2 separate regions of the Homo sapiens genome follow, and region 2 is linked to region 1. The links come from fine-mapping of genetic effects on gene expression. Tissue or cell type: whole blood. Region 1 holds a variant in brackets; the other region holds the start of a gene. Each region is shown on its reference strand, or each on the opposite one.

Region 1 (4,215 bases):
GAGTGCTATGGGGGATTTAAAGCTGACAAACACCAAGCATCACAGAACAGAGTAATTAATTTCTCCATTCACTCAAAAACATTTATAAAAATGTTATAGGCTGGGCATTGTGGCTCACGCCTGTCATCCCAGCATTTCGGGAGGCCGAGGCAGGTGGATCACGAGGTCAGGACTTCGAGACCAGCCTGGCCAACATGGTGAAACCCCGTCTCTACTAAAGATACAAAAAGTTAGGCGGACGTGGTAGCACGCGCCTGTAATCCCAGCTACTCAGGAGGCTGAGGTAGGAGAATTGCTTGAACCTGGGAGGCAGAGGCTGCAGTGAGCCGAGATCACGCCATTGCACTCCAGCCTGGGCGACACGGCGAGACCCCGTCTCAACCTTGTTCTGACTTTGCTGTAATAAGCATGCATGGTTAAGGCAATGAAAGCAATATATTGTAGAATTAACACTGAGCCTTGATCATCTTTACTTTCCCAAATTATTCCATTCCCCCATTCCCCACCTCATGCAGTATACATGGCAAAGGAAGATATTAAAATTTGAGCCAGTGATGAAAAATATTTATTTTTGACACATCAGCATTTTTTTGGTAAACAGAAGTTCTAGCTATATTGCCCAGGCTGGTCTCGAACTCCTGGCCTCAAGCAATCCTCCTGCCTTGGCCTTCCAAAGCACTGGGATTACAGACATGACTATATTGGCATTAAAAAAAAAAGTTTTATTAAAATTTTATTTACTGAGGCCGGGTGTGGTGGCTCACTCCTGTAATCCCAGCGCTTTGGGAGGCCAAGGCAGGAGGACTGCTTGAGGTCAGGAATTCAAGACCAGCCTGGTCAACATGCCAAAACCTCGTCTCTACTAAAAATACAAAAATTAGCCAGGTGTGGTGGCAGGCACCTGTGGTCCCAGCTACTCGGGAGGCTGAGGCAAGAGAATCGCTTGAACCCAGAAGGTGGAGGTTGCAGTGAGCCAAGATTGTGCCACTGCACTCCAGCCTGGGCAACAGAATGAAACTCCATCTTGAAAAAACCAAAAAGGTTTGATTTACTTACAATAAACTACATATAATTACAGTATAGATTTTGATACATTTTGACATATATATATACACACATATATATACACATATATACATATACATACATATATACACATATATATACATATACATACATATATATATACACACACCCATGAAACTATCACCACAATTTAGATAATGACATACCCACCACCCCCAAAAATTATATCTCACCCCTCTATAATCCCTTCTACTCTATAATCCCTGCCTTCTTTATCCCCAGGCAACCAATGGCTGCTTTGTGTCACTGTAGATTCGTTTAGATTTTCTAAAATGTTATATGAATGGAATCGTATAATATGCACTTGTGGTTTTGGCCTAGTTTCGTTCACTCAGCCAGATGATCTGACATTCATCATGTTGTTGCTTGTATCAATACTTCTTCCCGGCTGGGTGCAGTGGCTCATGCCTGTAATCCCAGCACTTTGGGAGGTTGAGGAGGGAGGATTGTTTGAGCCCAGGAGGTCCAGGCTGCAACAGTGAGCCATGATTGCGTCACTGCACTCCAGCCTGGGTGACAGAGCAAGACCCTGTCTAACATACACACACACACAGAGAGAGAGAGAGAGAGAGAGAGACAGACAGACAGATAGACAGACAGACAGAGAGAGAGTGTGTTGCGTGACTCAGCCTTTAAGCTTAGCTTTCCCTGTGGCATAAGTTTCGGGGGTTCTGAGATTTCACATTTTCCCTTTACAGGTGCATCGTAGGGTTTAGAAGGTGATATCTCACTTTGCACAGCTGAGACAGCTCTGGGACCAGTGCCAGGCATCCCACTTAGCCAGTTCTCGGGTGGTTCCTGGATTGACCCCCAACCTCCACTGCACATCTGCAGACACCTTGGGAAGGCACGGAATGACTGCAGGGATGGAATGGTTGAGGGTTGGGTGGGACCTGGACCTCATCCACCACCTGGGCATCCCAGGGGAGCAGGACATCAGGTCCCTCCAGCCCCCAACCCCGGGTGGTCCCAGCTTCTCAGGCCCGTGCCCCAGGGAGCAGTGCGGCTCCTTGTTCAACAGGAGGCTGTCATCGGTAGAACGCAGGGGTTGGTTGCCAGCTGCGGACTCCGGCTCATTTAACTGCTCTGCAGCCCCCACGCCGGGTCCTCACTGCCCCGTGGTAGATGGACAGCTGGGTTTGGCTTCCTCTGGTCTGATGGAGAAATGGCCTCATCCCAAAGCAGAATACTGTCCTCTGCTGGCTGGCCTGTGACATGGCTCACTTACAGACGATGGCTTTAAACAGGCACCCCAATGCCCCAATTTCCCCAGGTCCATCGTACCTTCGGGCAATCCCCCAAAGTTATGAAACTGCAGCCTGCCTTCCCTAGCATTCATGTGCCATGCTCTCTTTCCCCACATTCATAGGATGGGCACAGTCTGCAGGTCCACTGCCCAAGCACACATCCCCTTGGGAAGAAATGCCAACTCCCTCCCAACCCTGCTGGCTGGCATCCCTTAGATGTGTCCAACACTTGCCTTCAGCAGGGCA[T/C]GGGAAGCGAGACAGGCAGGAGTCAAATAGTGTAGGCAAGCCCTTGGAGGCCATGGCGAGGAAAGTAGATGCTGTTTCCAAGGACAGTGGGAAGTTGCTTAGAGAGGTTAAGCTGGGAGGGTAATGACTAATGACCCATTTATATTTTCGAAGGAATGGGAAACAAGCACTCAAAAACATTGCTGATGAGATCGAAAATGGGTGCAATTTTTTTTTTTTTTTTTGAGACCGACTCTCGCTCTGTCACCCAGGCTGGAGTGCAGTGGTGCAATCTCGGCTCACTGCAGCTTCCATCTCCCAGGTTCAAGTGATTCTCCTGCCTCAGCCTCCTGAGTAGCTAGGATTATAGGTGCACGCCAGCACGGCTGGCTAATTTTTGTTTGTTTGTTTTTTGAGATGGAGTCTCCCTCTGTCACCCAGGCTGGAGTGCAGTGGCGCGATCTCGGCTCACTGCAACCTCTGCCTCCTGGGTTCAAGCAATTCTCCTGTCTCAGCCGCCCAAGTAGCTGGGACCACAGGCACCCACAACCACACCTGGGTAATATTTGTATTTTTAGTGGAGACGAGCTTTTACCATATTGGTCAGGTTAGTCTCGAACTCCTGACCTCAGGTGATCCACCTGCCTTGGCCTCCCAAAAGGCTGGGATTACAGTCATGAGCCACCGCACCCAGCTGGGTGCAATTTCTATAGAAGGGAATCTGACAATATCTATCAAAATGACAAATGTACATATATTTGATCAATTTCACTTCTAGGATTCTAACTTGTAGATATCCTTGCTTAAGTGCAAAGTGGTTTAAGAAGTTATTCATTGCAGCATTGACTGCCAGAATAAATGATTAGAGATGACCCAGATGTCGATCAATGTGGGAATGATTAATAAATTATGGCGCGTCCTTTTTTTTTTTTTTTTTGAGACATATTGCTGTGGTGGGATCTCAGCTCACTGCAACCTCCGCCTCCCAGATTCAAGCGATTCTCCTGCCTCAGCCTCCCAAATAGCTGGGATTACAGGTGTGTGCCACCATGACCTGCTAATTTTTTGTATTTAGTAGAGACGGGGTTTCACCACGTTGGCCAGGCTGGTCTCAAACTCCTGACCTCAGGTAATCCACCCACCTCAGCCTCCCAAAGTGCTGGGATTACAGGCATGAGCCACCATGCCTGGCCAATAAATTATGGTGTGTCCTTTTGAAGTAATCCTCTGCAGTCATAAAACCAAAAAAAAAAAAAAACCCCAAACTAAGGAAGCTAGTATCCATACAGAATGCTACCTAAAATATTTTATTGAGAGAGGCAAGGTTCCTAACAGTGATTATAGTATGTTACACAAATAACAAAAGGCTTTAAAAGGTATAGGAGAGGCTAGGCACAGTGGCTCATGTCTGTAATCCCAGCACTTTGGGAAGCTGAGGTGGGAGGATCACTTGAGCCTGGGAGTTCGAGGCTACAGTGAGCTATGTTCACAACACTACACTCCAGCCTGGGTGACAGAGAGAGACCCTGTCTCAAATATATATATATTTTGAAACAGGCCAGGCACAGTGGTTCATGCCTGTAATCACATTGCTTTGGGAGGCTGATGCAGGAGGATCTCTTGAGTCCAGGAGTACAAGACCAGCCTTGGCAACATA
Region 2 (4,532 bases), not on the chromosome of region 1:
AGGTCAGCTCAGCTGGTAAACACTGTCACACTCATAATGACAGCCTGCCCACACTCTGCATCTGTTCCCCAGAATGTTCCCTCACTTGTTCTACTGACTGAACTTTTCCACCCAGCTGAAAATCCATTTTTGTTTCATTTTCTCTTCTAGCCATAAAACTATTAATAGATTCAAATGAAATGCATAGTCCAGACATACCTTGCCACTCAATCAACTGATAATTCCTGAGAAATACTCTCTGGTTTGAATTGCAGGAAGAAGTTACAGGAAGAGATATTTATTTCTTAGAAATGGAGTTATCGAGCATCTGCTGTGAGCCAGACACTTAGTAGTAAACACAAAGCTGCTGTCAGTGAACTGGCAGACAATGAGAAGTGGCCATGCTATGGCTATTCTGTGAGAGTAGAGGCATGGGGTTGTCCTGTCAGTCATGTGAAGAGTGTGATGGAAAGACAAAGGCCAGGAATCACACTGATGTTTCTGTATAAAAGAAAGGAAGGGAGGGAGGGAAGGAGAAAGGGAATAAATGCGGATCTTCTTAAAAGAAAACACCGGTTATCACTACATGGCATAAAACCATGGCACTGAAAGTTATGCATTCAATGAATATTTATTGAGCACTTACCTTGTGACAGGCAATTTATGTGGTGCAGGGATGTTCCAGGATAGAGAGGTGACTGAGCAAACCCACCTTGCTGTATAGAGTGTTAGAACATCGCTGGAGGAACAGGAAAAACAGAACACAAAATAGAAAGAGTGCTCTGTAACAAGAAGCATGGTTGCTGGGTTCCAAACTGTGATTAAATTTTTTAAAAATTTTAACTGTATTATGACCTTTATTTTTAAAATGTTTATACAAATCATTTAAGTAATATAATACCTTCTTGTGGGTAAAATTCAAACATTACAGATTTATACCTTGACCTCATTTCTTCTAAACCCAGTGTCCCCCCCTACAAGGAATGCCTTCTTTTGACATTTTCTAGTGCATTTATGAATGTTTGTGTGTACTTATGAGATCAATTTTATTTTTTTGTCGTTAAAATAATTGGTCTCGTATTATGCATGTTTTCTTCATGCCTTTTCATACTACAGCATTTCTTGAAGATATAGCCATGCCAGTACTGATAATTTTGTTTTTCTTTTATATATAGTCTATGTACTGGCTACTTAATTAAAAACTGTACTGTAAAAAATTTCAAATGTTTGCAAAAGGAGAGAACTGTCATCCCCAGATTATTTTAGAGCAAATCCCAGATATTATATAATTTCATACACAAAACCTAAAGTTTTTCGGGGGAACAGTGTGTGCTTGGAAAGATGTAGTTGAAAAGAAAGACTGAAAGCAAGTCGTAGGGCATAATGGATTTCTGAAGAAATAGTTGCAACCAGCAGAAGTATGGGCTATTGTGCAGAGGATATGGAAGTTAAAGAAGATCAATCTCTCTGCATCACTGAAAGGATTGCTGGAATGCCTGAGAAGTAAATAACATCAACATCTTTATCCACAGCTTACTAGGTGGCCAGACGCCCTGAACTGATATTTCTTCCCCAGTTCAGATGAATAGCTGGGATATTACTCAAAATTCTATTGCATATCTGTTGCAAGGAAAAGCAGTTCCTCTTTCCCTTCTGTGGTAATTTCTTACAAGCTACAGTTCTGGGCAGGGTGTGAGGGTGGTTGCCTAGAACGGGGTTTCCAAAGCTCCTTAATTGTGGCCTCTGACCCTTTTCATTGCTTCCATGTCCATACCCAGAGTCAAAACCCAAGGAATGCAGTGGGATGACATTACAAATTAATCTTAAGGAAATACGTTATATACCAAAAGAACTGTGTGATTGTGCTGATTTATATGAGCAGAATCTTGGAGTGCATGCTTGGAAATGAATTGTCAAGGTTTTAGATCAGGGAAAGTGGAATTTATTGTCGGGTCAAGCACAACTAATATTAATGCTAATGCATCCTCATCGCTTAGCTCCCACTTATGAGTGAGAAATCTCACCTTTCTCCAAGAATCTGCAGGAGAACGACAGCCTCAGATTTTGATTCACATGAAAAGAAATAGGGAAATAAGAGGGCGTACCTAAAGCCCAGGTGTCTGAGAGACAGAGTGGGAGTGGCTCTCACCTGGCAGAGCCAAGGGATCTGAGGGTGGGTAAAGAAGACACAAGTGTTTTCTCTACTTCTGTCCCCAGGTCCTGCGAATGATCAAGATCTATGCTCTCCCAGAACCACTGGAGAAGGAGGAGGAGGATTTTCTTTCAAAGCCAAGTGCCTTGCCCCCAGGATCTCCAGCTTTTTACCATTGCACAGGTTAGGAGAACGCACACCTTCCTGGTAGATTCTGCACAGTGGAGAAAAGGCTTCATGAGAAGCATGGAGGCTGGAACTCACACCACTCATCCTCACTCCATCGTCTTTATCTGTGCATTTCCCTGGTGACCCCTTCCTCCTCCAGTACCTCCCTCACTGTCGTTTCTGCTGCATCACAGGCACAGGCCTCCAAACAGGTGTGGTTGTGACTGAGTCTGTTTCTGACACCCCACCCCTTCTCACTGTGTGAGGAAACCTTCCTGGGAGGGGCTTGGAATCAGGAATAAAGCCAGAGGCAGGGCTGATAGGGGCCATTTAAATTCTGCAGCTCAGAGATTCACACAGAAGTCTGGACACAATTCAGAAGAGCCACCCAGAAGGAGACAACAATGTCCCTGCTACCCGTGAGTTAAAAAGGCACAGCCTTCAATAATCTCAGGTCACACAGAAAAGGGAAGAGGGAGATTTTATGGGATGAAAATATGAAAATTTCTACTGTGAATGCTTTACTGAGAGTTGTGGGTGTGTGGAAGAGAGACCCTAGGGCTATGGTATCTGAGATGCTCCTGGGGTAGGGGGGTAGGGGGTGTGGATGCTGGAACATTGTGACCCTCTGTGAGCATGTGATGGTATCTGATGAGAGTAAACTCTGCTAAAAATGATGTGACTTTAGACGGGATGTGTATGGCCCTCCAGGATATGGGTGGGTGTGTAAGTGATTGTAATCAGGTGACTGTGTTTTGTCTTCATGACTGTGATGTGAGTGTGTGTGTGAGCACAGCCGGACCAGTGCATGAGCATCTTTATATGCACAGTGAGCAGGTGTGTGTGACTCAGTGAGTGGCACGGCTCTGTGTGACTGTGAGTGTGTGTGCTGGAATGTGACTGGGTGTTGAACTGGGAACATGCATGTGGCCTTCTGTGCATGTGAAGGTTCCTCCCCACATAGCAGTACTCTGTCTAACTTCCCTTGTGCATCACTGTGGATCCCCGGTGACAGAACTTGTGGGATCTTGGGGCCCTTGAGTTACCGAGGACTTATCTCTGAGCATTTATGAGAGCAGAATGCATGAATTCTCAGGTGCCTTTTCCCAAGCAGAATGGGGGTGAGAAACAGACGATGGGGCTGATGGTTCCTTAGGTGGAATCTGCACACAGTGACCACTGGCTCCTGCCTCCAGCCTCAGGTCTCTCCCTGTCTCCTACCCTAGCCTGGCCTTCCCATTGAGTGCCAGGATGCTAGAGAAGGACATTGAGGGACTTGATTTAAGAGACTGAATCACCCAAAACCAGGAAGGTACAAGGCAGAGCTTACAGTGGATATTCATCAAGATGTTTGCTGAGGCCTGTAGTCTCAGCACTTTGGGTGGCCGAATTGAAAGGCCCATGTCAGGCCAGGACTGGTAGACCAGCCTGGGAGACATAGCAAGATTTCATCTTTCCAAAAATTTAAAAATTTATTGAATGTGGTGTTGCATACCGTAGTTCCAGCTGCTGGGGGGCATATGCAAGAGGTTCACTGAAGCCCAGGCCTTCAAACCTGCAGTAATTTTTTTTTTTTTTTTTTGAGACAGAGTCTCGCTCTGTTTCCCAGGCTGGAGTGCAGTGGTGCAATCTCGGCTCACTGCAACCTCCACCTCCCGGGTTCAAGCGATTCTCATACCTCAGCTTCCCGAGTAGCTGGGATTACAGGCTTGTGCCACCACTCCTGGCTAATTTTTGTATTTTCAGTAGAGATGGGGTTTCTCCATGTTGGCCAGGCTGGTCTCGAACTCCTGACCTCAAGTGATGCACCCACCTTGGCCTCCCAAAGTGCTGAGATTACAGGCGTGAGCCACCACGCCCAGCCTGCAGTGAGTTTTGATGGTGCCACTGCATTCCAGCCTAGGTGACAGTGTGACCCTGTTTCAAAAAAGAAAAATACCATCCATTTATAGATTCTAGCCAATAACTTCCCTGACCCACAATCTTCATTTGTGCAAGTACTGCGGTTGTGCTCTCAGCAATGTGTGCCCCTTCTGGGAAGGACGTCCATTGCCCATGATGATTGTGATGTATGTGCCTCCCACGCACAGGGGTTTCCTGTTCTTTCCTGTTCGTTTCCCTCTCTCTTTCAACAAGTGTTGTTTCTTTCTTTCTTTTTTTTTTTGGTGGTTAAAATGATAATAAAAAATAAAACTCACAATCTCAAGTTAGAAAAGATGCAGAGTACCTGAAA

The links. PIP is the estimated chance that this variant, and not a neighbour inherited with it, causes the effect.
Region 2: it holds the start of CLC, and the variant in region 1 is fine-mapped to the expression of CLC in whole blood (TOPMed, PIP 0.95).

The regions. Positions count from the first base shown.
Region 1 is chr7:75,864,714-75,868,928 of GRCh38, reverse strand. No RefSeq gene overlaps it. Among named protein-coding and RNA genes, the nearest start is that of RHBDD2, 12 kb to the left of the region's middle. RefSeq lists an enhancer at 2,104-2,398. The variant T/C (reference allele first, on the strand shown) is at 2,580.
Region 2 is chr19:39,736,124-39,740,655 of GRCh38, reverse strand. CLC (Charcot-Leyden crystal galectin) reads left to right here and starts at 2,627. Exons shown (of 4, transcript NM_001828.6): 1 at 2,627-2,718. The coding sequence starts at 2,704.